Linked DNA regions of Homo sapiens: region 2 is linked to region 1. Evidence: fine-mapped expression QTL. A gene starts in region 1. The other region holds a variant in brackets. All regions are shown on one strand. Distances are from middle to middle.

Region 1 (16,249 bases):
TGGGAAAGTGAGCTTCTGGCTTCCTATTTTGGCAAGGCAATGTTCGTAATTCAGGCACTTCCCTAAACAGAGAAAAAGGGTCCAAATGTAGGAAGTGATCAAAAAGTATAATAAAAGTCTACTATCTATTGGGAGATAAAAAATATGTATAGATTTTATCCAAGCAGAAAACATAGTTTTAAAAATAAAGACACAAAGCAATTTTGCTACACACCTAAACTATAACAGAAACCTAAAGCTTTATTTTTTAATATCAGCAAAGGCTTTAAAATTATGGGAGTATATTAGTTGACTGCTTTCCCCTCCTCATTCACACTGTGAGTCTCTCATCCATCAGGATGATAATTGAAAGCTCAGTCTATACTTAGCCTGTAGGTCTGTGAGAAATAGCTGTGATTACTATGGGGCTCCTGCATGGAAATTTCATGGCAATTTTACAAAGCAAAGATCATACAGAAGAAATTGACTTTGCTTTTCTTGTCAGTGCACTATTACATTCTTATTTTCTTTCCAAATCACTCCCTGATGAATATCTGCCATCATTAGCCAGTGGCAATAACATATTTACTGAATTTTTCTATACTCTTCCAAACATCTCTTATAACAAATAAATAACTCAGAGAAAATAATGCAATTATCTTAACTCTTCAGCTCAGAAACACATTTCTTTTTTGTATTGCATTCTGAGGAATGTTTTTTTCCCACTAGGAAGCTTTATTTTTCTTTTTAGTATTAGGGAGAGCTACTAAAATGGTTCATCTCTTTCTAGTTCTCTACAGAGTTCAGAGTAATTTTCCGAGATGAGAGATCATTGACTGATAAGTATATAGACTTAGCTTTCAGCTTCAAAATTTTCAAGACTTTTTTCAAAGATTTTCAAAGCATTGATTCTTAGTCTATGTTTTGAGATTTATGGATTTATATAATATTTCTATTCTTTGAATATTTTTCTTAAGAAGAATGTGCAAAACCACAGAGTGATAGGCAGAGTGATCACATGTCTGGTTAGTAGCTAAGAAAGATGTTCATTAATATGGAGACAATACACACAGAAGTTGTGCATTGCTACTTGTAATCTAGAACTCCCCAAATTGATGATAAAACAGACAGTGATCACTAGTAGGCCAGATAAAGGTAGAAACTAAGTAGATTTTAAAACTGAAGTAAAGTAAATTATTAACTCTTTAATTTGATCAGCTGACATTTCATAAATAATTTTGGTACCAATTAGGAATAACTATTTTTGTTACAGTTTTGTTTTTCATATTATTGTCTTGAAATGGAGAAAAAAAGTCATTGTATTTAAATAATTTTTAAATTTCAGTCCATCCATCTTTTGTCTCCCGTGAACTTGACTAGAAATTTGTCTTTATCAGTTCTTTGGTATATAATAATTTATATGATCATCTAGTTTTACACATGGGCATGTGGTGTTTTCCTACTTGAGAATGAGAACAATTAAGGACTGTGCCAAATAAACTACTTTTCATAGAGTAAATGCTCAAAAAACAGTATATTTCTATTAAAATCTATAATGTATGCAATGTGTTTCTTAAGATAAAGCATTTTATGTCTCATTGGTTGCTCAGTTAAAATCTGACCACTGGTTGGACTAGAGTTGGGGTTTAGATGTGATGCTCTACAGGCACTTCATGTTACCTCAAGTTGTTATTATTTCATTGTATTATCCTTAAATGTGGAAAGTCATGACTTACATACCCATGTCAATCAGAGTCCATACAGACTGATACCATTCATTGATTCATTAATATGTTCTTGGAATAAATATTTGAGCCCCTACATGCGGCAGCACTGTACTAGCTGGCCTCAAGGGCTTTAGTGTTAAACAAAGCAAACACAGGCCTTGCTCTCATTTACTAAGGACACTCTTTAATTGCAGGCCAAGTTGTAGATTAAACCTCTCTAATTGCACCTATGAAGATAAGTTTTCTAAAAGAATTCCCAGTTTAAGAAAATCACAGGAAGAGAGTAGTGAATGCTCCAAAGGATCTCTGTCTCACATTTATTGACTCTTAGCATGAAAATCAAATGTGAAAGCAACTTCAGCATTACCCAAAGGTGGTTCAGTGTATTCTAGGTATAAAAATGTTCCATGGTATACATTTGTATTAGTCCGTTTTCACATTGCTATAAAGATACTACCAGAGGCTGTGTAATTTATAAACAAAGGAGGTTTAATTGACTCACCATTCTGCATGGCTTGGGAGGCCTCAGGAAACTTACCATCATGGCAGAAAGGGAAGCAAGCACCTCTTCACAAGGTGGCAGGAAAAAGAAGCATGAAGGAGGAATTTCTAAACACTTATAAAGCCATCAGATCTCATCAGAACTCACTTTCATGAGAACAGTATGGGAGGAACTGCCCCTATGATCCAATCACCTCCCTCCTTTGACACGTGGGGATTACAGGTCCCTCCCTCAACATGAGGGGATTACATTATGAGATGAGATGTGGGTGGGAACACAGAGCCAACCCATATCAACATTATAAAAATTGTGAGAGAGAATCTGGAGGGAAATTACAATAGCATGCTTTTGGATATATTGAGGTTGGCCACTCTTGCTGAAATGTTTTTTGCACAAGTTAATTTAAATGATCATTTTATTTTGCATGTGTAAGTACTACTGACAGGGAAGACAAAAGTATCTTTCCAAACAGTGTTTGTTCATGCCATGCAACATTATATGGACAATGAGTTACACAATTTGTTTTATCAAATTAAAAGTTTTTGGTTTTTCTGAGTTGAGAGTATAAGGAAAGAGGAATTTATTAATTTATATAACACTCATTAGCCAATTATAAAATATATGTTGATTGTTTCAGCTGCATACTTTGCTTAGTTTTAACTTGATAAATTCATTCAATTTGGCTAAGTAGGGTCACAGTGGTACCATGCCTACTGTACTTACAATTTCCGACAGAGTGAGTGTTACAACTGAGTTTACAATTTGGATTCAAAATGCAAAACAAAATATATAAAATTGTTTAAAACAGAGTGATCAGTAAGGAGCTCATCATGTTACAAGTTCAATTTAAAGGGTATTTTCCACCTGGGCCTGGTGGCTCATGCCTGTAATCCCAGCACTTTGGGATGCTAAAGCAGGAGGGAGGTTGAGGTGGAAGGATCGCTTGAACCTAGTAGGTCAAGGATGCAGTAAGCTGTGATGGCACTGCTCTACTCAAGCCTGGACTACAAAGCAAGACCCTGGCTCAAAATTTAATAAATAAATAAATAAAAATAAAATTATTTTCCACTAACTAGCTCAAACATTGAAACTGCCTGAAGAACCAGTCTCAAACCAAATTAATCACATCTCAGTGAAATAAAGTGAGTTGTTAGTTTCATTAGTGAGTCTACTTTGAAACAAATACTTCCCATTGTTCTCATTTCAGATCGCTCAATCCTGCTTAATGAGAGCATTCCTTGAATTGACAAGTCAAATTGGGTTTTCTTTTTTGTTTCTTTTTAATTTTGATCATTTGTAGGTATTCATCTGGGTCAATAAAGAATATTTTGACACTCCACAACCAAAATTCAACTACTCTGGTTTTTTTTCCCTGTAGCAATCATTTAGTACATTGTGCTATGTATTATTAGTTACTTTTATATTTGGCCATGTGGATATTTTACTAGCTGAAAGACATTACATTTGAGGATAGGAACTAGGTACTATCCTTATGTGTACACATTGGAAACTTATGATATCTGAAAATGCTGAAGTCCTCTTGCCACTTTGGGGGAAGCCAGTGGAGGGCAAACCCAATATGCTAAGAATAGCAGAGTAGAGAAAGTGATAGAACCTGGCTCCTTCATAACATTTTTGGAAAAAGCTGATCATACCATTCCCAACAGCTGGCCATTCAGATTCATGCCATGTATTTCTGTAGTGTTTAGGACAGTTTGAATGTGGATTATCTGTTAGAATTGAAATCATCCAAATATGAATACTGTATTATTATTCCCAGTTACAGAAGAGAAAACTGAAGCTTATAGAGAATAAGTTGCCCAAGGTTACACAAGGAAGTAGCATAGTGAAGACATGAAGTGGAGTCTTTGTGACTACATCTTAGGCTCACTCCACCCCTCACCCCCAAATACACAAGATTACCCATTTAACAGAACTCTTTCCCTATTCTTGTTATTAATATCATCTTCTTTCTTATGATGATGTTCTTTTTTGTTTCCTTGCCTTTTTTTCTCAGAGGAAGAAGTGTCTCTCCTCCTCCCTATGGCTAGGCTAGCCTTGCCTCACCCCATATGTTCTTGCTCATATCCTTTCTGCCTTCTTTGGGACTTTGTCCTATCAATCATTCCAGCTCTTGAATTGACTATTTCTTTTTACTTCAGCATCTAAATAAATTCATGTCATACCTAATCCCCATCCACACCCTTTCCCTTGATCCTGATAACTCTTTAAGCTACTCTTTCATTACATTTAGCAAGAGACTTATAGAAAATGCAGCCTATGTTTGATATTTCCACTAATTTCATCTTAATTAAAATTGCTTTCTTAAAAGTCTCTGAGGGGAAACAGGCATTGCAACTCTCCCTACCCAAAGGAGGAGGAGATGATATAATGATGTGTCACAGGCTCTATTGCTGATCGGGTCATAGTTACTAGTGGGCAGGGTCAGTGTATGTTAAAAGGTCATCCATCCCTCATGCCTTCTTGTGCTTCCTGCTCCTTGTCTCTCTGTAGTGGCAGATCTAGACAGGGCACTGGCCATTGGGGTATGCTGACCATCTTTTCTTATTTCCCTCCATTCTTGTCTCCTTCCTTTCAGCTTTTTCCTCCTCCTCCTTACAGCAAGTCAAAGAAAGGTTCTTGTGGGAAGTACTAAATACCCAAGTATCTTATACTTCATAACTAAGCCATAGGACCCATACTTTACCTTTGTACTTATTAATAATACAGTATCTTTCTTCTGATGCTGCTATTGCTTATTATACATACAGAGATGAGGAATAATCAAAATGATGGGATTCTGGCATTACTAGGCTTCATGAAGGTAATACCATCAAAATAACATTTTGATTCTTCACAGTCACCGTTCATTGACTTTCTCTTTTTTTTTTTTTTTTTTTTTTGAGACAGAGTCTCTCTGTTGCCCAGGCTGTAGTGCAGTGGTGCAATCTTGACTCACTGCAACCTCTGCCTCCTGGGTTCAAATGATTCTCCTACCTCAGTCTCCCAAGTAGCTGGGATTACAGGGATGCGCCACCACACCCAGCTAATTTTTATATTTTTAGTAGAGATGGGGTTTCACAATGTTGGCCAGGCTGGTCTTGAACTCCTCACCTCAGATGATCCACTTACCTCGGTCTCCCAAAGTGCTGGTATTACAAGCATGAGCCACTGCATCTGGTCTTTCATTGACTTTCTATAATAAAATTCAAAGATTTTCCATGAGTTTTCATTCTCTTTGATCTCTGTGTAATATAATTGATTCTCTTAGCCAGTTCTTCCTTCTTGAAATGGTTTACTTGGCTTTTATGCCATGTTAACTTACTAATTACTTATGGCAACTCAAATATATTGGTTTTATTGCCAGCATTTATTCGCCTGACTTCTGGCAAAATAGCACATCACATTTCTTATGGGAAAACCTCCTATAGTCTAAGCCCATGTAATTTACCTTCACTCACAGCTCATGATGTGGGTGTTGATTGGCCCCAGCCTGATCACCAAACTGTAATCTCCCAGCTGCAGTAACTGGGGCAGGAATGGTACCACAACTGACAAATCCAATTACATACAATATAAGTTTGCTAGGGCTTTGGAGAAAGAGGCTCTTTTTCTGTCCTTTCAGACATGAGTGGAAAAGGATATTATATTAGGCTGTTCTTGCTATAAAGAAATATCTGAGACTGGATATTTTATAAGAAAAGAGGTTTAATTGGCTCACAGTTCTGCAGGCTGTACAGAAAGCACAGCACTGGCATCTGTTTCTGGAAAGATCTCAGGAAGCTTACAATCATGGCGGAAGGCAAAGGGGGAGCAGGCACATCACACGGTGAAAGCAAAGGACCAGATCTCCTGTGAACTCAAAAGGAGCTCATTTATCGCCAAGGAGATGACCCAAGCCATTCATTTGGGATCCACCCCCAGGATCTAAACTAGTCTTGTCAGGCCTCAACTTCAACACGGGGGATTACATCTCAACATGCGATTTTGATGGGGACAAATATCCAAACTATCTCAGGTATAGGGCTTGGAGTTTGCTACAGCCCTTTGAGCACCACATAAAATTTAAGAATGGAGCCTAAGGAGTAGGAAGCAGAGTGGAGAAATGGACGTCTGTGTGACATCCTGGTGTTTTTAGTCCTTTATCCAACTGCACTTGACGCCAACTTATTAGAGAGTTTTCAGAGACAATAGACAATAAGTACTCCCTCTTTCCCATTATTTTGGCTTAAACCAGTTTGATCTCGATTCTCTATCTCTTGCATCCAAAACAATTCAAAAACAAACAAATAAAACAACAATATATATATATGTATTTTACCATGTACATACATATGCATATAAATTCATAGAGAAAGTTCTGGAAAGATATATTTCAAAGTGGTAGAGGTGGTTATCTCTGGCCAAAGGGGTCTGTTATGGTGGGAAAGACGATTGAGAAGGGGCTTTTCGCCTTTCTTTATTGTTAGACTGCTTTGGAACATGTTACTGGAGGTTGTAAAGCAAATATCCTCAAAGCTGGAACTATAGAACTCACTGCAAACCAATAATGACTCTTGTAATTAAATTTGCCCTGCAATAGCAATTAATTATATTTCAAAAATACCCTTTAACACTCTCGTCAATGAGTAGTTGCTGCACCATTATCTGCTCTTCAAATGAGAGAAAAAAAAAAAAAGCAAAGCACAAGCTAATCTTGTGGTTTGTGGAAAGTTTTACGGTAAAACAATGGTGGTGTTGACATTCATCTCTTTTGATTCTCAGCCCATGGGTTTTCCAGTTCATCATAAACCGCAGCTGGGGCCGACTTTGGGGAACTCCATATTAGACTCACGCGCTGATGCTAAGTTGAACTGGACTCCCTCTCAAGGCTGAGACGAATTCTGTTTAACTCTCCGAAGCTTTTTTTTTTTTTTTGAGATGGAATCTCGCTCTGTCGCCCAGGCTGGATTGCAGTGGCACGATCTCGGCTCACTGCAACCTCCGCCTCCTGGGTTCAAGCAATACTCTGCCTCAGCCTCCCGAGTTGCTGGGATTACAGACGCGTGCCGCCATGCCCGGCTAACTTTTGTATTTTTAGTAGAGACAGGGTTTCACCACGTTGGCCAGGCTGGTCTTGAACTCCTGACCCCGTAATCCACCCGCCTCAGCCTCCCAAAGTGCTGTGATTACAGGCGTGAGCCACCGCGCCCGGCCTCCGATGCCTTTTTTTTCACGTCACATTTCTTTTAAAATGTAACCTGACCGCAGATACATAACTGTCCTAATACGGAACAGAATTTTTAAAGTAGTTTCTTGTTCTATGACCCCAAAGCTGAATTTCAAGCAAGGAATGCTCAGGAACCAAGATGTTCACTGCACCAGCTGAGACAAAAAGTAGTTTATTTTCATCTCAGCAAGAGGGAACTGTCAAAGAACCAGATGCTTCTCATCTGCGGAGCCCTTCTCTTCAGAAGCCGTGGGAATTGGCTCACCACCAGGGGGCGCAGTTTTACTATACCGTAGCATGCCGCGGAAAAGGCGCGCTCTCACCTGCAATATTGTCCGAGGTCTGAATATTAAAGAGTTCATTGCTGCAGATCTAAAGGCTCTCTCTGTTTAACTGATGCCTGGGAATGACGGTAGAGCCTTGCTTTAAAGCCAGACGATAACATTTAAATAGTTAAGCCGTCTGGCTTCATTAGTTTATTTTTCCTTGTTGCTGGCAAGGAAAGTACTATATTGTAGAGATAATCGTGACTGATAATCAAAACGAAAGCAGTTTTGACAAATTCTAATATAAGTTTTTACTGAAACAGGAATGACAAAATCCTTTTGTCTGAAAGGAAAAAAGTTATAGCTGCATGAAAAATAGGCCCCAGGCTAAGAAAGCTTTTGCTCAAATAAGGGAAATAAAAGAGCAGTGGAATTGTAGGAATAGAATCATATGATGCTTGACTTTTTGCCCTCAGCCTGAAGAATGAAAGCAAATTAGAGGCACAAAACATCTTTAGCAGTCCCAGCTGCTAGGAAGGCTGAGGCAGGAGAATCGCTTGAACCTGGGAGGCGGAGGCTGCAGTGTGCCGAGATAGCGCCACTGCACTCCAGCCTGGGCGACAGAGCGAGAATCTGTCTCAAAAACAAAACAAAACAAAACAAACTATCTTTAGCCCCTGATGCGCAACTGTATATTTTAAAAACATTTAAATTAAAGGGGGAAACAAACCCCAAATGAACCAACAACTGTTAATTCACTCAACAGTTTAAAAAATTGGTTGCAAATAACGTTATCTTTGCTTTGTTTCAAGTAAATGAGGCTGTTAAAACAGTGCCTCATGGAGGGCAACAGTGGGGATTCTCAGGAGAGAAGCTATCCTACCTTTTGGTTAGCATGTTGGGGCGGGGAAATGGAGACTGCCTGCCGAATCACAAATCAGGGTCTTGAGTTTTCTTTCTATTTCTGGGAATTACCCGTTACATGAGTGGAATGCATATATGTGAATTTTCTTTTACAGGTCGGGGATCCATGGAAGGAGGGTTTGGGATTCACCACAGAGATATGTTCTCTGTCCTCAAAGAATCAAATGTACCATTCCTTTAAAATAAGCATAAATTGAGGAGGGACTGGCGATGAGAGTGGAAACTAGCTATAGAAATGGGAGCATGCAGCCCTGAATTGCTCCAGAACAAACACATTTAATGCCAGGGAAGTAGACCACGCTGGGTAATGTCACAATACTATAAAAGGAAGGGTACTTGCTAGGTCCTATTCTAGGATATTTTTTCCAGCCCTCTCTCTAGGCTGCTGGAAGGACAGTGAGGCTGGTTTAGGTGCTCTCTCCCTCCTCTCCAAACACGGCAAACATTCTGGGTGGCTTCCCGTCTGGAAGCCTGTTGCCTGATGGCATCGCCACATTGGCTTGCTCCACCGCTGCAGCTCGGAAGGCAGGGTTAATTCCATACGGTTGCCAGAGCCCTAAATGAGGGAGCCTAGGTCAGAGGTCGCACCCACCGGGAGGGCGGGGTTTAGGGGTCCGGGGCGGGCTGAGCCTGGCCCCGCCCAAGGAGGGGGCGGGACGTTTCCCGGGCCCCGCCCCGCCGGCCCGGGGTTGCACGTGACCCGCGGTCCCGCCTCCCGCCCGCTCCGCAGCGCCAGCTCGGCAGGCGCGGGGCGTGAGTGTGGAGTGAGACCCGCCGGGCTCCAACTCCGCAGCGTCGGAGCGCGGCGGGCAGCAACTTTCTCCCCGGAGCGGCCGTGGCGGCGGCTGCTGCCGTGGCAGCCGGAGCGGAAGCCGGGAGGAAGAAAGCGGCGGCAGCGGCGGTTGCTCCCGCCGGCTCGGGCTGTCTAGCTCGCCGAGACTGCCGGCCCGCGGAGCCGCGTCCCCCCGGGCAGCCCCGGGCCCCTGCCCTATGTCCCGCAAGGCAAGCGAGAATGTGGAGTACACGCTGCGGAGCCTGAGCAGCCTGATGGGCGAGCGGCGCAGGAAGCAGCCGGAGCCGGACGCGGCGAGCGCGGCCGGGGAGTGCAGCCTCCTGGCTGCCGCCGAATCGAGCACCAGCCTGCAGAGCGCGGGCGCGGGCGGCGGCGGCGTCGGGGACCTGGAGCGCGCGGCGCGGCGGCAGTTCCAGCAGGACGAGACCCCCGCCTTCGTGTACGTGGTGGCCGTCTTCTCCGCGCTGGGCGGCTTCCTGTTTGGCTATGACACCGGGGTGGTGTCAGGGGCCATGCTGCTGCTCAAGCGGCAGCTCAGTCTGGACGCGCTGTGGCAGGAGCTGCTGGTGTCCAGCACGGTGGGGGCGGCTGCCGTCTCGGCGCTGGCCGGAGGCGCCCTCAACGGCGTCTTCGGCCGCCGCGCTGCCATCCTCCTGGCCAGTGCCCTCTTCACCGCCGGCTCCGCGGTGCTGGCTGCGGCCAACAACAAGGAGACACTGCTCGCCGGCCGCCTGGTCGTGGGACTCGGCATCGGTGAGTTCGGGCTCCGTGAAGGGCGCCCGGGATCCCATTGTCACCGCCCTTGACCCTGGGTGTTGCGTGCCTCTTGCCCATCGGGGTCCCCGTCTGGTCTCCCAGGGTCAGAGAATCCTCCACTTCTCTGGCCTCCAGAGCCCATCTGTTTGTTGGTCCAGCCTCCAAGGCTCTCCCGGGAGGTGGGAGGGTCGGGGGGGAGGGGGTGTCACTCTAGTCTCCCTCGAGCGCACGTGGAATCTTTGATAGGCCACGGACCAGTCAGTCCAAGTGGTTGTTGCCTCTCAGCACTTCCAGAAACCTAGCTGAGCACCAGCTCTTTCCTTGATCCAGCCTAACCTGATGCTGCTTCTTGAGCTTACGAGGGTCTCTGCTTTCCTGCACTGTCCCACCTTGCCTCTCCACTGCTAGCCCCTTTCGTTTTCTGGGGCTCCCAGCCTGGAACCTAGACCATCGTCAAGTTACAGTGAGATAATATTTAGAGTTAAGTAATTCTGGACTCTGAAAGGTTTATTAGCGACCCCTGCCCTCTTTGCTTATCTAGCATTTGTCTTTAGATGGCATCTCCTTTTGCTTTTATGCTTTTTCTATTGCCTTTCAGCTTTCATTCTTTTCCCAAGTAAATTCCATTCTCCTCTGTTTTTCCAACTTTTTCATTTGAATCCTTTTTTATCCATTCTCCTCTTTGTTTTTCCTCTCCTGCTTTCCAGTTGGGAACCAAATTATCTATTAAAGGTCATATTCACTTCCTTAATTCATTTAGGAGCTACTCCCCCTGTGGATAAATGCCCCGCAAGATAAATGTTTGGAATTTACTTCAAAAATGAAGGCATTAAGGTTCTCCTGGCGTTGAATTTTTTTCACCCTGGTTGCTGAGCAGGGGAGGTACAATTGGCAAGTTTTTGGCAGAGGGAAGCTATTTGGAATGTGCTCTGTATTATTAGAAAGCACTTTTGAGGGAAAGTGGGGGGCTGTGACTTAAATCTCACTAGTAATTTTTCTAAGACACACCGCTGATGCTTTTTTAATGTTTCGTTTCATAATTCAGTTTTTTGTTTCCCTTAGGGTGCTGTTGAAGTATTTCTTCCCTATGGCTGGGGCTTGATGAAAGCGCTTTAAACCTGGGGCTGCTGCTGATCTGTGTATTCACCACTTGTTTGATGTTTGTGCTTTTCACCCTTTCTCTGTGGGTTCTGAAGGGAAGCAAAGGCCATATATTCAACTCCACATGCGGGAACCATGAGCCTAAAACCCAGCTCACTGCACTTTATATTCAAAGTTTGTCAGTAGTGACCTTCCTTTTGCTGTTTATTGTACTGTTAATTAGCAAAGGTAGGGCAAAGCTCTCCGTAACATATTAAGTTGGCACAAAAATATCCAAAGTGACCAAAAAATCCAGCTGAAATGAAACCTATTTGTGTGGAAACTACTTGGGCCTTCAGGACCCTTCAACAAATAACCTGCTGTTTAAGTGACCACGATTCTTTTCTCAGCATTGTCTGCTTGGGACATCTGGACCTTTTTTGTTGCTTCTGACATAGAAATAACATCATTTTAGGTAGCAAGAATTGTTCTGTCAACCTCAATCTTTTCTGTAATTTTGAAATTGAATCATGCTTTGCAGAGCTGTCTAAATGAAGCTTCCTAGTGTTTTGCTATGGCAGGTATTGGTTAAAATCTTGGGTATTATGTTTACTCTTTTTATCTGACCTGCGAATTGAGCCCTGTTCTGTGTAAGGTCCCCTTCCAGATGTTGTGAGCTGAATAGTGAGGAGAATGTATTATACTTTAGTAAATGTAGCAAGCTGGGGCAAAAGCAACGTAGAACTTGCTAAGCTTTATAAGATAGGTTATCAGAGATGGCTGATGAATTCAGAGGGGGTACAGTTATCTCCAACAGAGGGAAGCCAGAAGCTCTTACCAATGGAAATGGTATGTTGACATGTCAGTATTTTAACAGAAACGAGGAAAGGACGTTCTAAGCAAGGGGCAAAATGGGTAAAGGAAGGAAAGCATAGGGCATACTTGGGGAATAGGTGGAAGCAGCAATAGAGGACAAAGCAGGAGATCAGATTGGAAGTGTTGGTGTGCAAGAGCTGTGGAGGCCTCTCTGTCTTGCAGCCTCATTCTGTGGTCTCTGGGCTGGTTGGTTCAATAGAGAAGCCCAGTTTAGATATGTTCTCCATTCAGTTCTGGTGTGGCCCATCTCACTTCCAGAAACATACCTCTCAGAATAGAAGCCCTGAGGCAGTTTCGTAAAAGCCCTCTTCATTTACAAAATGAAGAATGTTTTAAGATCATAAACAGGCTTTGAAATAGGCCGCATTCAAAACAAAACAGTAATGAAATAAATCCACTTCAAATTAGGATTAAAATTAGGATCTATGCAAAGCATGTAATTATACACATAAAATCATTAAAACTTACAAAGAAAATCACTTTTTTTTAAGCTACAAGGAAATGGGTTCCTAACATGAGCATTTTTTGAGGGACATTAAATCAGTTTGCTTGTTTGGTACACAATCTGGGTTAATTTTATGCCATTGTTTTTTAAGTAGTTAAATTTTATGTGTAGTCAGGGATTTGTTGTTTTGTCCTTATGATATTTAGGAAATGTTGATGAATAACAAAATGTGGCTTTTGATACCTTTTTCAGACAAGTTTGCTCTAAGAACTTCTTTCCTCCACACGTTTACCTGTGGTAAAATATACGGCCCATGTGGGTCAAGGATTTCTGCTCATTTTGTTCACTGATATATTCCTGCCACATAGGAGATACTTGTTGAATAAATGAATGGTGAGCAAAAACGAAAAAAAAAAATCCAAATTCCATTGCTGGTCGGGTAGCACTTTAAGGTAGGATTGTTCTTTTCAAACCACAAAAATAGTGCATTATCAAAATATTTGAAAGGGCATCTAAAGGTTTTGGTTGTAATAGTTTAATGAAATCATTATCTATTCAACACTTGCTAATTAAGCTTCCATTATGGATCCTGTCAGATATGGGGCAGGCAGTAATTAGATAAAAATCCCACCCTGGAGGTGTTCATTTTATAATGGAGTAGAAAGATACATAAACAAGCAATTAAAAGAGACATTTCTCTGTAGTGCCAGATGACACACAGAAGAGTAAGTGGTCAGTTGATTCTTTCAGGGAAAAAAATAGAACACAGGATTGAGGAAAGTTCTACAGTGGGATATTCAAAGTAGGGTTTGAAGAGTGAGTAGGTGTTCAGCAGATGATGTAGATGTAGCCAGAAAAGTGCTTATTTAGTGCTTTAGTATGTTCGAGACCTGGTGGAGTACTTTACACATATTACCTCATTTAATCTTCCTGAGTCTGAGGAATGGGTCTCCTTTTGTTGGGTGTGGAAACAGTTAAATGGCAAGGTCACTGATTACAGAGACAGGATTAAAAAAAAAAAACAAACAACCTTGAGTCTTTTGCTCTGTTACCCTACTGGGCATTTAAGGTGGAGTTAATAGCTGGTGTAAAGGCACAGAAAAATCAAATTAGTATTTGAAGCATAGATGAGTGAGGGTGGTGATGAGGTGGTCATGAGACTGGAATGTTTTGGGGGGATTAGGCTGAATATGGTTTATTTGGAGAGCTTTTAGAGGTTTTTAACAGTAAATAATGTAATCAGATTTAACATCTCTTGAATCTGAGATGTGAGGGTTTTTGTTTTCCCATTATACTTTTAAGCTCTTTTACCTTCTTTCTTAAGTCTTCTCATGTCTTTGAAATTTTGGGTATTAGCAATCATTTGCTGAGATGGCTACTACAGGATGGGTAAAGCATAGCATGTGACCGTGAATTACTGATATGGAAGGAGTCAGTGGACCCTTCAGTAGAAACCTTTGACAAAGGCGAAGATAGCAAGGAGTAGAGTGTAGTTATTAATGGGTATTAAATGAATTGTATAGTAAAAGACCTTAAGTATCAGAAGTCAGGGATATGTGTATTTGTTTTGATTTAAGGGTTCTGTTTTCTTGACTGGTTGTAAAAAAAATACTGCGTGCCTGTTTTAAATATGGCATTATTTTGGGTTTTCTTTTCTTTTTTTTTTATTGGTTCACCAGAGTCATCTTTGGTTCCTCTAGTTTATTTTTCTCTTCCACTTGAGTCCTGACACTAGACTTTCTCCATTGTCGCTGCCTGCTACCATGACCATCTGAACTTTTTAAACGTGAAAAGTCGAATTTCAAATAGGACATACGTTTTCCATCCCAGAAATGATTGTATTCTAACAGGGTTAATCTTTTTTTTTTTTTTTTTTTTTGTCTGAGATGGAACTTCACTCTTGTCGCCCAGGCTGGAGCACGGTGGCGAGATCTCGGCTCACTGCAACCCCCACCTCCCAGGTTCAAGCGATTCTCCTGCCTCAGCCTCCTGAGTAGCTGGGATTACAGGCGCCTGCCCACCACACCCAGCTAATTTTTGTATTTTTGGTAGAGACAGGGTTTCACCATGTTGGCCAAGCTGGTCTCGAACTCCTGATCTCAGGTGATCTGCCTGCTTCGGCCTTCCAAAGTGCTGGGATTACAGGTGTGAGCCACCATGCCCGGCCCAGGGTTAATCTTATTTTGTATGTTCTTTACACACAATCCCATTTTCAGGTGTTTGTTTAGCAGTATTGTACCTATAATCAAGGTTTTGAAGTGTGGTTAGTTACAACAGGATTGAAGAATATGAGTTTGCTCATTTGCTTTATTTATTTTCTATCATTGTGTATCTCCCATGCATAACACAAAAGAAATTGTCTAGAAAACACAAAGTACAAGAGCATAGTACTGTTAACACTATTAGCATGTACACAGTCAGTGAAAAAGCATACCCATTAGCCCTTTCTCCCTGGTGTTGGCATTTATTCTACTGCTTATTATAAGTGGTGATTTAGGGCCTGTGTAGGGAATATCAAGAAATCTCTAAATTTGATAGTCACCAGTATTCAAAACCTTTCCTGAGAATTGACATACTAATTTATACAGCACGGGATTCGTTGAATTAATCTTAGATTTACATCAGTTTCTCCTGTGTCAGCCTCTTTCCGGACTCCCTCTACTTGAACACAATTTGTAGCTGTAAATTGCAGCTTGTAATTAGTATATTATGGCCTGTTGAGTAATACTTTTAAAAATACCACATTTTTTTTCAAACAGCACTTTGAATTCTTCCTCAGTGCAAATGAAATGTAAAATCTTGTTTGATCAAAAAAATGCAATGTTGAGATCAATGTCAACAAAGAATGTCATTTAAGGTAAGCATAGTTGGGCAGAAGCTCCTAATTTTCAAATAGTTAATCAGCTAAAATACAGTTTTGGGGGGAGGTGCTCAAATTTTTTTTTTTTCCACTACTCCCCACTTTCTTTCTTTTTGGTTGTTTTTGAAGGCAGGAATTCTGTATTGGATTTATGCTTCCTACTGGTGTGAAACTGACACATAAAGCCTCCTTTGACTTCTTGTATTTCCTTGTTTTATACACATTAACAGCTTTGTTCCCTCCCCTTTTCTGTCTGGCAGCCTAGGGACTGACACTGCAGTTATAGTGAGGATTATGATCTAGTTGTGTTTGCCTAGTAGTATAGCAACACCCTCTTCAAGTGAGTTGTCAGTAAGATAACGTAAGTCTGTTAACGTGAGTTATGTGAAATTGTTCACGTGACTTCCTTGGAAAACATTGTGCTTTTTCATTCATCCATTTTGCCCTCTTATGGATTATAAACTTAAAGTAAGAACACACTCAAAGTTAACTGACTTCACACTAACATCTTTTTGAACACCTTTAATGATGTAGAAACTGCTAAGAGAACTGAAATAGCAAGCAGTCGTTGCCATCTTTACCCAAAATCACCTGAGTCTAATTTTCTTTTTCTCATATTGTACTTGGCTCCTTTGTACATCTTTCTTGTCTACACCTTTTTCCATTTCTTTACCTTTCTTTTTCCTGTGACCCATCAGAGTAATAAATAGTAGCAACACTTCTTATAGCACCTATTTCTAATAGTATCAAAACTTCCATTGTCAGGAGGAAAATTCATACTCACCAGAAAAACCTCAAACTTTTCCCACATGTAAAATTTAATTTCTCTGGT
Region 2 (16,249 bases), 150 kb after region 1:
GAGGTTGAGGCGAGAGGATTGCTCGAGTCCAGAAGTTTAAGGCTGTGGTGAACCATGATCATACCAGTGCACTCTAGTCTGGGGCACAGAGTGAGACCCTGTCATAAACAAAAAAATTATTGCTTATTGATAAAAGGTTAGTAAACCAGGAATAAAAGGGAACTTCCTAAATCTGTTTAAGGATACGTATCAGAAGCTTTCATCAAGGATATTACTGATGAAACTTTGGAAGCATTCTCTTTAGTCCAGGCGTGGTGGCTCATGCCTGTAATCCCAGCACTTTGGGAGGCTGAGGCAGGTAGATCACTTGAGGTCAGGAATTCAAGACCAGCCTGGCAAACATGGTGAAACCCCATCTCTACCAAAATTATAAAAAATAAGCTGGGCGTGGTGGCGTGCACCTGTAGTTCCAGCTAGTTGGGAGGCTGAGGCAGGAGAATTGCTTGAACCCAAGAGGCAGAGGTTGCAGTGAGCCAAGATCATGCCACTGCACTCCAGCCTGATGACAGAGCGAGACTCCGTCTCAAAGTAAAAAAAAAAAAAAGAAAAAAACATTCTCTTTAAAATCATGCAAGGGCCAGGCACAATGGCTCACGCCTGTAATCCCAGCATTTTGGAAGGCCAAGACGAGTGGATCACTGAAGGTCGGGAGTTCGAGACCAGCATGGCCAACGTGGTGAAACCCCATCTCTACCAAAATACAAAATTTTGCCAGCTGTGGTGGCGAGCGCCTGTAATCTCAGCCACTCGAGAGGTCGAGAAAGGAGAATCGGTTGCACCTGGGAGACTGAGGTTGCAGTGAGCCAAAATCACGCCACTGCACTCCAGCCTGGGTGACACAGTAAGACTCTGTCTTGAAAAAAAAAAAAAAAAAAAAGAATGAGACAGGAAACCATTTTTCACCATTTAATAAACGTTGTACTGAAAATACTAGCCAATATTAGGCCGGGCGCGGTGGCTCACGCCTGTAATCCCAACACTTTGGAGGTTGAGGTGGGTGGATTACTTGAGGTCAGGAGTTCGAGACCAGCCTGGCCAACATGGTGAAACCCTGTCTCTACTAGAAATAAAAAAATTAGCCAGGCATGGTCATGCGTGCCTGTAATCCCAGCTACTCAGGAGGCCGAGGCAGGAGAATTGCTGGAACCTGAAGGCAGAGGTTGCAGTGAGCTGAGATCACGCTGCTGCACTGCAGCTTAGACAATAGAACGAGTCTTCATCTCCAAGAAAATACTAGCCAACATTATAAAGGAATAAATAAAGCTGTCATTGTTTGCGGAAGTCTATGTAGAAAACTCAAGAGAATGTGCAGAAAATCTTTTAGAATTAATAGAGTTCACCAAAATTGGTGGATATAAAATTAACATACAAGTGCAGCATCAAAGAGGAAATGTAATGTTAAAAAAGATACCAATGATAATAGAAACCAAAATGTCAGGTACTGCGGAATCAATATTATGAAATATGCATATAACTTTAGAGAAAAGTAACTGATATTTTAGCAGACCCCAATAAAGATATATTTACATATAGGAAAAAAAAGTGGCCCTGTCTATAGACAATGCTAACAATATAGCTATTTAAGAAAATCATATGGACACGGGGAGGGGAACAACACACACTGGGGCCTGTCTGGGGGCCAGGTGAAGGGAGAGCATCAGGATAAATAGCTAATGCATCTGGGACTTAATGCCTAGGTGATGGGTTGGTTGGTAGATGCAGCAAACCACCATGGCATGCATTTACCTGTGTAACAAACCTGCACATACTGCATGTGTATCCTGGAACTTAAAGTAAAATAAAATTTTTTTAAAAAGAAAATTATTTATTTAGAAAGGATACTTCCTCTTTTTAAATAAAAGTTTTCTAGAACAGTAATTCTTCGTAATTTTTTCCTCAGCAACATACCACACTCCCATGACTGTTAAGAAGTTTGAAATTCGTTCAGTTGAGAATTGCTGAGGAATGCATTTTATGTCTGCTTCATTTATGTAGATACTTTTGACAAAGAAAATATTTTAGAATTTAGAAAGAATTCTTGATAGTAACAGAAATTGGTTTTTGAAAACAGTATTTTAGTGGTATTAAGACCTATAATCATCTCCTCTTCTAAGTTGATAAAAACCTTTACATTAGCAACCTGGAATAATAATGACCAGATTAACACAGTCATTGCATACCGGCCCTAATGTACCATGATCAGCTTACAAGCACGCATCTATAGACAACTGGCCCATCACAACATCTTGGCAAATTGATTGCCTTGGAGGATTTTGGAATGTATTGGCATAAATGCCAGACTGTGAAAGAATGATTGAACCACATGGGGTTGAATTCATCAATAGCAGCAGTCCATTCTTTCAAGCAGAACATGTGCCAAGCACCAGCTTGTAATCACAAACATCATCTGCTGCATATTGAAGAGGAAAACAGCGTGGGTGTGCTCAGGATCTTGGTGGTAGTTTCTAATTAATCACAACATTGTTTAGCAACTTGGAGTATACTCAAATTGCTTCATCCATGAGTTCTCAATCCCCATACTTGCTCTGGTGTTTCTCTTTTTTTCTCTTCTTTCCTTCTTTTATTCCTTATATTCATCAAGGAAATATTTACTGAATGTCCTCTATTTACATGATCCTGAACTAAGCACAATGGGAAGTAAAATGATAAAATGAGCAAAGCCTGAACTACACACCCGACATAATCCAGCACAGAGATCATAATTCACTATGGAACAGAGATCAGGGACCTAGTCCCCAAAACAAATTAGCCAGGAGTGAGAGCCTGGTCCAGTCCTTCAGAATTGCAAGGATGGGATCCCAAGCAGAAGGAACATTGTAAGAGACAAAATTGTAACAATATGGGACTTCTTTGAGTAAAACAGATTACCCAAAAATTGCTGAAGCATTGCCTATTAGAGGAGAAGTAGTATGAAACAAATCTTCTCAGGTGGGCTGGGGCAGGAGTGTCCCCTTCATGAAACAGGCCCTGATGGTTCTGTTATCAATGGTTTTGAACAAGTAAGTGGAGGATTCAGTGGGGTGCTTTAGCCAACAGGTGGCAGCAATGTGGAGGCGGGATGGATTGGATTCGGTAGAGACTGGGGATGTTGAGACCACATATTAGGCTTCTTATTGAACACATGAATAGTATGTGCCAGGAACCTTATTATCTCTAATCCTCAAATGGATAGTACTACTCTTAAATCCATTTTACTGAAGGGGCGATGGAGACTTACAGAATCTCACAGTGGCTACATTGTAGGACTGGTATGTTAACACTGGTCTGTGTGAACACTTTCCACAGCCGTGCACTGTCCCACTGGGAGATGGATGCCAGCCAGACAGGCAGTAGAAAGGTGGGGAGGCAGAGAGGTACAGGTGCAGAACAGAAGAAATCTTTCCAATGTTTTGTGGAAAGAAGTTAGGCATACATACATTAATTCTGATTAAAACTTGGCAATGTATTAGATTCAGGATATATGAAGAGAGAAGGAGCACTCAAAAGCCATGAATCTTGATTTACTTTGAAATTAGATAACATGGGGTAAAAAACAAGTTTGGGGTGAGAAATGAGGACTTCTGTTTTGTATGTACCTGAGTGGCATACCTCTTGTGGGTCCTTCCTTATGCCTTAATCTCATAATACTGTATATGTACCTCTGTTAGAGCACTTACACCATTGTGGCATAGCTTGTTTTGTTTTGGTGGATGACCCCATCCTGGTATTATGAGCTCCTCAGGGGCTGGGCCTCCTCACGTTTCTGTCCCTAGCATGGAGTAGGCTCATGGGAAGCGCTTCAGGTATGATAAGGAACTAGGGGATTCTTGGCCAGAGAGACAGGAGAAATCAATGGAAGTCCAAGGAGGAGGAATGCTTAAAGTGAATGTTGTGAGAACATGATTGGGAGCCAGTTAGAGATGAGTGAAAGGCTCCCCTGATAGCACGCAGGACCTGACATGCTGAATTTGTCCCAAAATGAGTGTGGCTCGTTTTTGTAATTATTCTCAAACAATGCTCAACTCCCTGGATGTGGGAATGGAGAACTCCCTGGATGTGGGAATGAAATGAGTGGCTTGAAGTAGATAAATCTGGAACTGAGGCTGGATAGAGTGGCAGGTGGGACCATGAAAATGATGAAGAAAATGAAATGGAGGAATTGCAGTCGTAAGGAGCACAGAGTATGTTTGTTACTATAGCTTGGAAGTGTTTCAGTTTTGTTTTGTGTTACTTCTACTGTTCATAAGTTGTTGATTTTTTATGCTAAGAAAAATAAGCTTATTTAAGTGGGCATACAAAATATCTTGGCATTTGTGGCATGAACAAGATGTCGGCCCAAGTTCTCTCTCTAAACACTTACTAGTTTGTGACCTTGGAAGAGTTATCTAATCCTTCTGTGTTTAGTTTCCTCTTTTCTAAGATGGGGGTAGCAACACTTGGTCTCTCTGACTTCACAGGACTCTGATGATGATAGGAAATTGTTCATAAGGCAGGAAGGGTTATTGAAGTATTAGATAATCCATTGAGATTTGAGCAAATGCTTAATACTCTTGGTGATTGTGTGAGAATGGCCGCCTCTGGTTGCATTCAGGAAAGGATCGTGGTGTTGGGGGATCTTGCTGTGCTTGATTGTAGCCCAATTATAGGGCCCTAAATTGAGGAGTGGGGAGAATAATATTTGAAGCTGAGCAGTGATTATCTTGCTCCCAGTGAGGCCCCTGCTTTCTCCACAGGGGCATCTTTACTTTATCAGCAGTGGGGAAGCCTCCTACAGTTTGCATCTTGTAATCCATTAGTCACAAAGTGTTCCACTTTTTCCTCCTTAACTTTAATATTAATACAAGGTAAAACTCATAAATAAATAAAACAAAAAGAAAGGGAAGAATAAGAGCAAGAAAAACCTTGAAGAGGTGTTAAGGGGGCTTCATCATTGGCAGTTCTCTTTCAGCAGTCTCACAGCAGACTTCATTACTTCAGTTTGATCAAACATTGTTGTTTCTAATAACCCCCTTGTGTTCTTACTTAAGGGAATATCATGCTCTTTGAATATTGAATTTTTTTTCTTATCCAGTTCACCATGTCAGCCTTCCTGACATCTAAAGTCTCTAGATTATTGGTGAAGCTTTTTCTTACTTTTGTTGTTGATTTTTAGCAGCTCTATTGAGGAATAATTTACATACAATAAAAAGCATGTATTTAAAGCATATAATTTGAGACGCTGGCATATGTGAACACCATGAAACCATTACCACAACCATGCAAGTGAACATATTGCTGCCTCCCCAGAACTTCCCTTGGTGCCCCTTTGTAATTCCTCCCTCCACAGGCAACCATTGATCTGCTTTCTGTCAAGTTATTTGGACTTAGAGTTTTCTTTGGGGGAACGTTTTTAACAAATTCAGTATTTTTAATAGCTTATAGGGCTGGCTACTCAGGCTATTTCTTCTTGAGTGAGTTTGGAAGATTGTATCTTTTAGGGAATTTGTCTGTTGCATTGAAGATGCTGAATTTAATGGCATAAAGTTGTTCATGATACTCTTATTATTTTAATATCTGTCCTGAGTTCACCTCATTTACTCCTGATATTGGTCATTTGTGTTTCTGGCTTTTTCCTGGATAGTCTGTGCATTTGTTTTCTGTGGTTACTATAATAGATTACTACAAATTTGGTAGCTTAACGCAGTAGACATTTATTTTCTCACAGTTGTGGTGGCCAGGTGTCCACTCCTGTCCCACACCCCCTCCAGAGTCCGTAGAGGACAACCTCTTCCTTCCTTTTTCCAGCTTCTGGGGGCACCTGTCATTCCTTGGCTTTTGGCTGCGTAGGTCCAATCTCTGCATTTGTCTTCTCTGCTTTTGTCTCGAATCTTCCTCAGCCTCCTCCTGATAAGGATACATGTGATTGCATTTAGGGAAAACCTGGATGATCTAGGATTGTCTTCCGATCGCAAAATTTTTAACTTAATTATACCTACAAAGTTTATTTTTGACATCTAAGATAATACAGGTTTCAGGGATTAGGATGTGAATATGTTTTGAGGGGCCCTTATTTAGCCTACCATAGCTTGGCATGAAGCTTATCAATTTTATTGGTCTTAAAAAAACAATTTTGGTTTTATGGATTTTTCTCAACTCTCTTCTTTTCTACTTCATGGATTTCCATTTTGATCTTTAGTAATACTTTTAGCGTGTGCATACTTTGGGTTTCACTCGTCTGTCTTTTTCTGGTTTCTTAAGGTTGAAGGTTTCCTAAGAGATTTCTTGCAGTAATTTTACCTGTTACACTTTAGCTCCATTCCACAAATTTTTATAGGCTATGTGTTTAGATTCTTTCAGCTTTATATTCTTACTAATTTTCATAGAAATGTGTTATTTAGTTTCCAATTTGGGGGATGTTTTCCAGTTGTCTTTCAGTTACTGATTTCTATGTTAATTTCATTATGGTCAGGATATTCTTAATATGACTTGAATCCTTTTAAATGAGTTGAGACTAGTTTAGAGCTCAGAATATAATCTACCTCAGGTAAATATTCTAAGACATTGACCATACAATTTAAGAATGCATATCCTGCTCTTATTTGGTGGAATGTGGTTTAAATGTCACTTATTAGGTCAAGTTTGTTGATAGTGTTCTTGGAGTCTTCTATATCCTTGGTGAATTTCAGGATACTTGTTCTGTCGGTTACTGAGAGTGATGAAATATGAGAGTACAATTGTAGGTTTTTCAATTTCCCTTTTCTGTTGTGTCAGTTTTTCTTTCAAGTATTAATATTTTGAAGCTCTCAGTAAGTGCATACACGTTTAGGATTGTTATATTCTCTTGATGAATTGGTCCCGTTATCTTTACAAATTGTATTTTCCTGCCTTTGTGCATTCTTAGTTATTTTTTATTTTATGTCCACATTATAAAATTTTATCTCATTGAGTTTTGTTCTCGGATACCATTAAGCTGCTTAGAAGCAGTTGAGTCTTGCTTTTATGCTGTTTTAGATGGCATTCAAGTAATGTTTAATCTAGGACTAAACTTACACCATTATTAAGGTATATCCCTTCTAAATACTCTTTTGTATGCTTCAGATTTTTCACTCTGGTTCGTAGGAACAGGCACTATCCCCAGCCCTGTTTGAGCTCCTGGAATTGATTTCTCTAACCCTTTCCAGTAGCTCTTTCCCCTGTCTTGGGTTGTTTCCTCACACACCTACACTGATCAGTACTCAACTGAATACTCAAGGGAAATTCTGAAGATCTCCAGATTCTCCTCCTCCCTCTCTGAATCTATCCTCCCTGGGTCCTCTGCCATCTGAATTCTAGCCCCCTTGGCATCTCTGTATTCTGAGCTGCATCTTTTCAACTCAAGGAAACACCAA[T/G]GTCTGCCTGGTTTACCTGCCCTGTGCTGCAGCCTGGAAACTTTTTTGAGATATTGAGCTGGGGACAGTTACAGGGTTCGCCTCATTTGTTTCCCAAATCTCAGGTATCACTTTGCTTCATTGCCTGTTATCCGCTAGCATGAGAACTGTTGTTTCATGCATTTTTGCATGGCTTTCTAGTTGATTCATGTAGAAAGGGAAAGCTGATAGCCATTATTCTGTCTTAGCTGGAAATGAAAGTCAAGAGCTGGAATTTTATACAAACTGGCTTTTAGTGCATTTTTAATCATACTTAGAAAACCTTCTGTAGGCTAGGTTCACAGACAACCTATCATCCACAAAAGTGGCTGCCCTTGTGGGACTCTTTTTCATCCCTGCTGCTGGAGCCTCTGCCACCTGGACAACCTTATGCAAGTTACTTAGCAACTTGGTAGTATGAGGTGTTCAGAGTGAAGGAAGAGGGATGAGCTCATTTTGGGATCTTGAATCTACTGCTTTACTATGGGTTATATTTTAGGTCTTTTATTTCTAATCTAGTTGGTTAAAGGTTTTAGTTTTTATAATGTGAGAATTTCTGTGTTTGAAAGATAAACATTTAAAATAAAATTAAATGTGAAATGTTTGTATGCACAAAACATTTTTAATTACAAAAGCAAAAGAAATGTTTTAAGTAGAGCATGACATTTTAAATGTTCACTTATGAACATTCAGCCAATTAATGTACTTGATTTTTTTCTTCTGCCTCATAGATTCTGTGATATAAAGATTAATGATGGTTTTCATTTGTAAAGGAAGTTTTACTGCCTAATAAAGCTAGGTTCATAATTTTAATGAAAGGAAATTCTTTAATTTTGTTTATGCATAATCAGATGTGCAGCTGCTGGGACCAAAATTTATCCATTAAAAAATGCAGTCTAATAAAGGAACTACCATCATTTATTTTTAACAGGAAATCCAAATCAAGAGAAAATATAAAATCCAGATTTTAAAAAACTAGGAAATATGTGATGTTTATGCAATAGCTTATCTCTTGTTTTTATGGCAAGTCAAACTTTGGTCCTAATTTGTCATAATGTTCTGTATTTCTGTTCTCCAAAATCATTATTACCTAGCCTGACCATCAAATCATGATACAGTTTAATAGTGAAAGTAGATGCATCTTTCCAAAGATTATAATAGACTTCTTGCATTAGGAAAAACTAATTTCTCATCTGAGAAAGGGCTTTTGTTTGTTTTTGTTTTGTTGTCTTTTTTTAAAAAAAAAATCATGATATACAAGGTAAATGTTATTATTTTTATTTGAAAGTTTTGATTAAAGGAAAGGTAGTGCCTTGCTTATTTTGTGGGTCACTTGCAGGTATCTGTATTTGCAGATGAGCCTGCCTATCTTTCAGGTTGCTGATCCAGATATATTTCAGCATTGTTACAATCAAACTCTCAAAATTCACCTGTTTCACACAGTCTTTCTGATATATTAGGCTTTAATACTGCTTTGCTCGAATCTAAGGCAATTTGACATTTATAATACCCTCAGTCTGCTTTCTAAATGGATCGTCACTACATTTAGCTTTGAATGACCATCAACGCTTCTCTAAATTAATCTATTCCCTCTCTTGCCATTTAGAAACAAAATCATTTGCAATAACTCAAGTTTTATGATTATACTTATATCCATGTAGGAATAGAATATTCTCACCCCTATAATATTTCATTCTAATTAATGCCCTGGCTTGACGTCCCATACTAACTTTTATTGCTGAGACAACATACATATTGTATTCCATTTTTGTGAATTTGAATATTAGATTTTCAAAAGATCCTGAAATAGTTAGACTTCTTTGGATTTTAATTTACCGGACTTGGTTTAGAGTTCATTAACAAAACTTGGACTCTAATTAAGCAGTTAGCATTGCAGTGATCCCAGGCCATCTCTTCTAACAGCGGGAATACCATAGGTCCTGGGAGTTGACTCTAGCTCCATTAAGGACACCATATAGAATGCCTCTTAAAGCTAAGGTGACATTGTAACTGAAACACTTATGAGGCTGGAAGGGCCACATTTAGTAATTATGCCCTGACAACAGGCATCAATAAGGTTAGTCAACCTACTTAAGGACTCAGTGGTTCAGATTTACAGCTTTCCAGAACTGATCCAGAGTTCAGATAAAGACCAAAGTATCTCTGCCATTTTGAAAGTTCATTTGTATTTTAAAATAATCATTGATTGCCTCTTAAGGGACTATTCAAAATTTAGAAATACACACACACACACACGTACACACACATACACACATCTATAGATAATAGGTATTAATTGTTTTTCTTTATTAACTTTTTGGTAACTTTTATTAATAATCTCCATTGTAGCTATAACCAAGGCTGACATCATGCCCAAATTCTGTAACTTTAGTAAAATAACATGAATTTTGTTCTTTAATTCTTCTTAATGAATGCTTTTCTTACGGTTGATTAAAGCAATTTTGCCAGTGACTTTTAAGTAGTCCCACATGGATGGATTTTAAATAATACTTAATTGACAAGAAAGTTGAAGAACAAAGGAAGTGGTTAATCTCTAGAGCTTGTAGGGATTTAAGGAAGACTAATTTGACAGTTTTAGTTATATAGGTCTTCTAGTACCCATAAATTGCTTAAACTTAAATTATCTCTTGTCGCTTTTACAGTTCAAACTAAAAACAAAAACAAAAACACTATCTGTTTGCAAAATAAAATATTGTACCCAGATTTCTGTAAAAATAGAGTTGTTCTGATTTAAAATGCCCAGTCATGTTGATTTCATGAAGATTTAGGAAAATTTGTCCTATTGGGAATAATTACTATGAGAGCTAAAAATAATAGTTGTATTTTTTTTTTCTTTCTTTCTTAAAAAAGCTGGACCTGTGATCTGCAGAATGCTGAGTTATCCCCCAACTCGCCGAGCTTTAATTGTGGGTTGTGGCCTACAAATGTTCCAGCAGCTCTCAGGCATTAACACCATCATGTATGTATTTCTTTCTGGCTTTTTACTGAAAAGATTGTGAAAGGATTATTTTATGTGAAATAGTGAAAAGTATTTCATGTAAATACTAGACTCAGTGATTTGTTCTGATTAAATGTATGAATTCTCCTTTTGGGAGATACTGACTTTACAATTTTTTAATTCCAGTAATTTGTTACTAGATAAAGGTGATTTATTTTGTTTGTTATATGATTGGCTTTATTTGATTCCATAAAATTTCTCTTTTACGCCATCCAATACCTCCTTGTATTCTGAGCTTAAATGTGTCATTTTTTCTAAGCCATTTCTTGATGCTGGTTGGAAAGCAAAATAGAAGGAAATCACCTGGCATTGCCAGAGATTATGGGCACACAGATAACTAATTCATTTCTTTTTGGTGCAGTCTACTACAGTGCAATGTGATAAGGACATTAGTAGAAGTACGTTTATTATAACCAGAGTATGGTAGAGGGGAGATTGAGTGGGAAGGAGAGTGAGGAATACAGAAAAATTCCCTGTTCTCTAATTTTAAGAGTAATTCCCAAAGCTGTATGTGTGCTGAGGGTGGGAAGGACTAAATATTAAGGGCTCTACTAGGTTTCCCTCATTCAGTATTAAACCCATTTTTGAGGGCCTCTGTTGCACTAGACCTACAGCAGTAACTAAAATAGACCTGGGTCTTGTCCTCATGGATGTACAGGCTGGTAGAGGAAGCACACATTAAATAAACTCACAGTTAAATATAAGATTTCAAACTATGATAAGGGCCATACAGGACTCTCTCAATTCTCTACAGAGTAGACTTTTAAGATCCTAAATCATAAAATACAGTTTAGAGAAGGTTATGTGCTTTCCCAGGGCACATATTGTTAGATTAAAAGCTGCCACATCTTAGAAGTCCTCCCCACTCCCTGCCTATTGATTGAATTTTTTTCATTAAGAAAATACAAATTATGTAAAATTAAATTTTCTTTGGTAAACCATTTGTATTTGAGACTCTTGATTTTTTTTAATTACTTGAGATATGATGAGTTATTTAGTGACTGTTTGAGAAGAGTGAATTGATTAAAATATTTTTAAAAAAGAAGGATTAGGACCCAATGAGCCAGTATATTAAATCAAGATTTGTTGAGAAACTCCATTTTCTATACATTCACACACTTTGTGGATTTGACTTTAATCATAATCCCTGTTGAACTTCAACTTTCGAGACTACATGTTCAATATTTTGTTCTCTCCTGCTTCTCTCTGACATTAACTTTCATTTTTTCTCACCTTTACCAGCTCTATTAAGGCCCATCTGTTGGTCTAGTGCCAGGCACGTTTGATTGCTTGTTCTCTGAATTTGGCACATCATGACTTGTTCTGAGATGTGTCCACCTTCTGCAGTCTGGTGGAAGTATAGAATTGCAGCTAGGCTAGGACCAAGCATCAAATAATTAAATCCATTAATAATCCTATGTGAATTCGTTAGTTGACCAACCTAATATTTGTTCTGGTTTTGAAAATATGTTTTGTTTGTTATGCTTTTTTTCCTAAGCATTTAAACTTGACAAGTATAAAAGCATAGAAAGTGAAGGATTTTTCTTGTACTTTTTTTGTTTTCACTTAAAACTGGTATCACAAACAGAGCCAACTCTAGTTTATGGGTAGTGACTGGGGCCAGTGTATTCCTAGTTTGAAATGACTGTCATAATCCATTAGCAGTAGCTAGTGTAAATTGAGCTGATTGATGCTGTCAAATTTTAATAAAACATTCATTTCTCCAAAGCCTCACTTTTTTCCTGAAGATCAAGTGATATAAGGATCCTGATATTCTCTAATATTTATGATAGATGCACTTTGCTTATCATAAACTGCACATGATATAGGTAGTGTTGTCATAGAGCTTTTGTTTGCATTTGATTATCAATCCTGGAAAACAGGAAGAATAAAATAAAGTAAATGATGGCTGAACTTAGACTGTGTCTACATGATGTAAAACAGCTAATCAACTTCCTGCATAAATTAATATGTTCATGTCTAGAGGTTAAAGGATTAGACATTAAAATAATACAATACCTATGCTGAGTAACTGTTGTTTATTCACAGTACATAATTTCAGACATTCATATTATAAGCCCATAAAATTTAGTGTAAGTCAGTGTCATTATGATACACTGTAATACTGTTTACTGTCTGCATAAAAAACAACTAATCTGGGACTCTCATGTAATGTGTTTTCTCCTGCTCTCTCTAGTCTTTATTTGTGTGTGTATATGTATGTATCTTTTTCCATTATTCTCAAGATTAAGGAAATACTATCATAAACTTTGTTTCTGATTTAAAATAATCTATTAGAGTCTAGTAATTTACTTTTTTTATTTTTAGTAGAAATTTTAATTATGCCTTTTATTTTGTGTTACTTTGTTAATTCAGAATATCTTTTCTATGGATATTTTATTACATATAACACATATGTTTATGTATATAAAATTTTACTCTTTTTTTCCAGCTTCTTCCCTTTTAAGTGGGAAATAAAGCAGTTAATGCTTTTCTTTATTTTAATTCAACCCTAATAATGTGTAGAAGTTGAAATACGTTTTTGAAAATTCTGTCGTTTACCTCAAAATCTGAGTGAATGGAAATATAAGGTATTTTGAATTCTATTTCTCACCAAGGTGAGTTTATAGAAAGATTATACGGAAAGATAATATTAAACAAATACATTAAAAGATAAATCATCCTCACAGTTGTGTTATATAATCTTACTGTGTTTAGTTTTTTATCTTCTCCCTCAAAGAATCCTTTATTCCTATTCCCTTGACCTATTTACTATTCTGTCACATTTGACAAAATAGATTTTCTTCTTGAAATACTTGATTTTCTTTTCCTTTACCATATTTATCTATAGACAGTATATCATATATATAGATATATATCTTTTATTTGTATGATAACTTATGTTTCTTTATATCCCAACCCATACATTCTCATCCTCTACCCTACCGAATGGAGGACTTGTAAGTTCTTAAAACTTACATATTTCAGACATTACATTTCACTTTTAGATGAGGCAATTTTTTTTTATAATATGACTCTCATCCTAATAATTTCAACATGCAACTGAATTGATTATTTTCCTTTATTCATAGGAGAGAAAGAGTAGAGAAAATGGAGTACTAACTTTCCTAATATAAGGGTGTTAGTATCATTGCACTGTATCTCATAGACCAATAAAATATTTCTGCATGTGTCAAAATAAAGAAGAGGAGTGATAGATGAAGATGATGATGGTTAAAGTAAATTCAAGAAATTCTCGGCCAGGCGCGGTGGCTCATGCCTGTAATTCCAGCACTTTGGGAGGCCGAGGTGGGCAGATCATGAAGTCAGGAGATCGAGACCATCCTGGCTAACACAGTGAAACCCTGTTTCTACTAAAAATACACAAAATTAGCTGGGCATAGTGGCGGGCGCCTGTAGTCCCAGCTACTCGGGAGGCTGAGGCAGGAGAATGGCGTGAACCCGTGAGGCAGAGCTTGAAGTGAGCCGAGATCATGCCATTGCACTCCAGCCTGGGCGACTGAGCGACACTCCGTCTCAAAAAAAAAAAAAAAAAAAAGAAATTCTCACTGTGATCTATTCTAAACTCTAGTTATAATATCAAAGATGTTCCATGTTCAATCTAAGAAATATTTATCTGATGACTATTAATAAATAGACACTTCCCACATTATCATTACCACAACCTAAATACATGTGTTCATGTTTGGAGGAGGAAAGGTGTACGTAGGTAGTGAGAAAGAAAACACTAAGTTCTATGTGGGTTTGATAACATCTTTCTTTTTTGGGGAACTTGAAGTAAACTATATTTTGGTATATTCTGATAAGCAGATAATCAGTCTGTCTTGGATGAATGAAAGGTATCAGATTTTTACCTAAGAAGACCAAGTGGTTAAATGACTCTCTTTTAAGGTTACACAGAAAAACAGTAGTAAAGGGGGAAAGAAAATCCAGAGTTTAAGCTTTTGAGTTTGCTTCGGATAAAGAGAACTGTGGGGGAATCTTCTCTGGGGCATTTGGTCTTTTACTTTTTAGCCACTCTCCTTGCAGAGTAATATTGCCAGCTTTATTTCCTCTTCTTACTTTTCTGTCTTCTATTAACTCAGAGTAATAGAAGCTGAGTCAAGTTAGAGAGCTGAGTCAAGTTAGACAGGCAAGTGAAATAAGCGGGTAGAGGAAGCAGCAGAAAGGCCCTGGGAGCTTGCTGGATCCCAAGCAGCCCATTCCTGCCTGGCACCACAGTGATCCATCAGGAGAGTGGCCAGAGGAGCAGGGGGTAAAAGTCCACAGGGAGAAGAAATTCTGTAGCTGAACTTGGTAACAATTTGAATGGGGCAAGAAGCCTCCTGGCCATAAGGGAGGACGCAAATGGGGCGTTCATACTTCACAGGCCGGGGGAAAAACTAAAGCCCTTTTCTTTCACAACTGGGAGGCGGACAGCCTTGGGCAAATTTTCAAGCCCATCTCGCCCTCCGCCTGGAAACAGACTTGGGGCTGTTGCGGGAACATGGTGGGAGTGAGACCGGCTCTTCCGTTTGCGTGAGAGTTGGGTGAGGCCTGTGACTGCCAGCTTTCACCCACTTCCCTGACAATCTGCATGACTCAGCAGAGGGAGCCATAATCCTCCTAGGTACACAACTCCAATGACCTGGGAATCTCACCCTCAACCCCCACAGCAGCCACAGCAAGACCCGCCCAAGGAGAGTTTGAGCTCAGACATGCCTAGTCTCGCCCCTACTTCATGGTCCTTTCCTATCCATCCTGGTAGTGGAAGACAAAGGACATATAATCTTGGGAGTTCTAGGGCTCTGCCCACTGCCAGTCCCTCTCCACACTACTACAGCTGATGCTTTCTGGAAAGTTCCACCTAATGGCAGGAAGCCAACCAGCACAAAAATAGAGCGTTAAACCACCAAAATTAAGAACCCTCATGGGGTCCATTGCAACCTGCTCCCCACAACCTCCACTGGAACAGGCGCTGGTATCCACTGCTGAGAGACCCATAGGCGGTTCACATCACAGGACTCTGTGTAGACAACCTGCAATACCAGCCTGGAGCCAGGTAGACTCGCTGCGTGGCTAGACCCAGAAGAGAGACAACAAACACTGCAGTTCAGCTCATAGGAAGCCACATCCATAGGAAAAGGGGGAGAGTATTACATCAAGGGAACACCCTGTGGGACAAAAGAATCTGAACGACAGCCTTCAGCCCTAGACCTTCCCTCTGACTGATCCTACCCAAATAAGAAGGAACCAGAAGGCCAACCATGGCTATATGACAAAACAAGGCTCTTCAACACCCCCCCACAAAAAATCACGCTAATTCACCAGCAGTGGATGCAAACCAAGAAGAAATCCCTGATTTACCTGAAAAATAATTCAGGAGGTTAGTTATTAAGCTAATCAGGGAGGGACCAGAGAAGAGCAAAGCCCACTGCAAGGAAATCCAAAAAATGATACAAGAAGTGAAGGGAGAAATATTCATGGGAATAGATAGCTTAAAGAAAAACAATAAAAAATTCAGGAAACTTTGGACACACTTTTAGAAATGCAAAATGCTCTGGGAAGTGTCAGAAACAGAATTGAACAAGTAGAAGAAAGAAATTCAGAGCTCAATGACATGGTCTTTGAATTAATCCAATCCAACAAAGACAAAGAAAAAAAATAAGAAAATATGAACAAAGCCTATAAGAAGTCTGGGATTATGTTAAATGACCAAACCTAAGAATAATCGGCATAGCTGAGAAGAGAATTCTAAAAGCCTGGAAAACATATTTGGGGGAATAATCGAGGAAAACTTCCCCAGCCTTGCTAGAGACCTAGACATCCAAATACAAGAGGCACA

What was found. PIP is the estimated chance that this variant, and not a neighbour inherited with it, causes the effect. A credible set is the group of variants that fine-mapping cannot tell apart.
Region 2: its variant is the best candidate, but not a certain one, in a credible set for the expression of SLC2A13 in hippocampus (GTEx, PIP 0.67).

Annotation. Positions count from the first base shown.
Region 1 is chr12:40,099,157-40,115,405 of GRCh38, reverse strand. SLC2A13 (solute carrier family 2 member 13) reads left to right here and starts at 9,325. Exons shown (of 10, transcript NM_052885.4): 1 at 9,325-10,153. The coding sequence starts at 9,598. RefSeq lists silencers at 7,661-7,790, 9,172-9,421, 9,442-9,701, 9,722-9,791, 9,802-9,891 and 1 more and an enhancer at 8,002-8,171.
Region 2 is chr12:39,945,373-39,961,621 of GRCh38, reverse strand. SLC2A13 (solute carrier family 2 member 13) reads left to right here. Exons shown (of 10, transcript NM_052885.4): 4 at 10,257-10,365. Among named protein-coding and RNA genes, the nearest start is that of SLC2A13, 150 kb to the left of the region's middle. RefSeq lists an enhancer at 14,410-14,909. The variant T/G (reference allele first, on the strand shown) is at 7,368.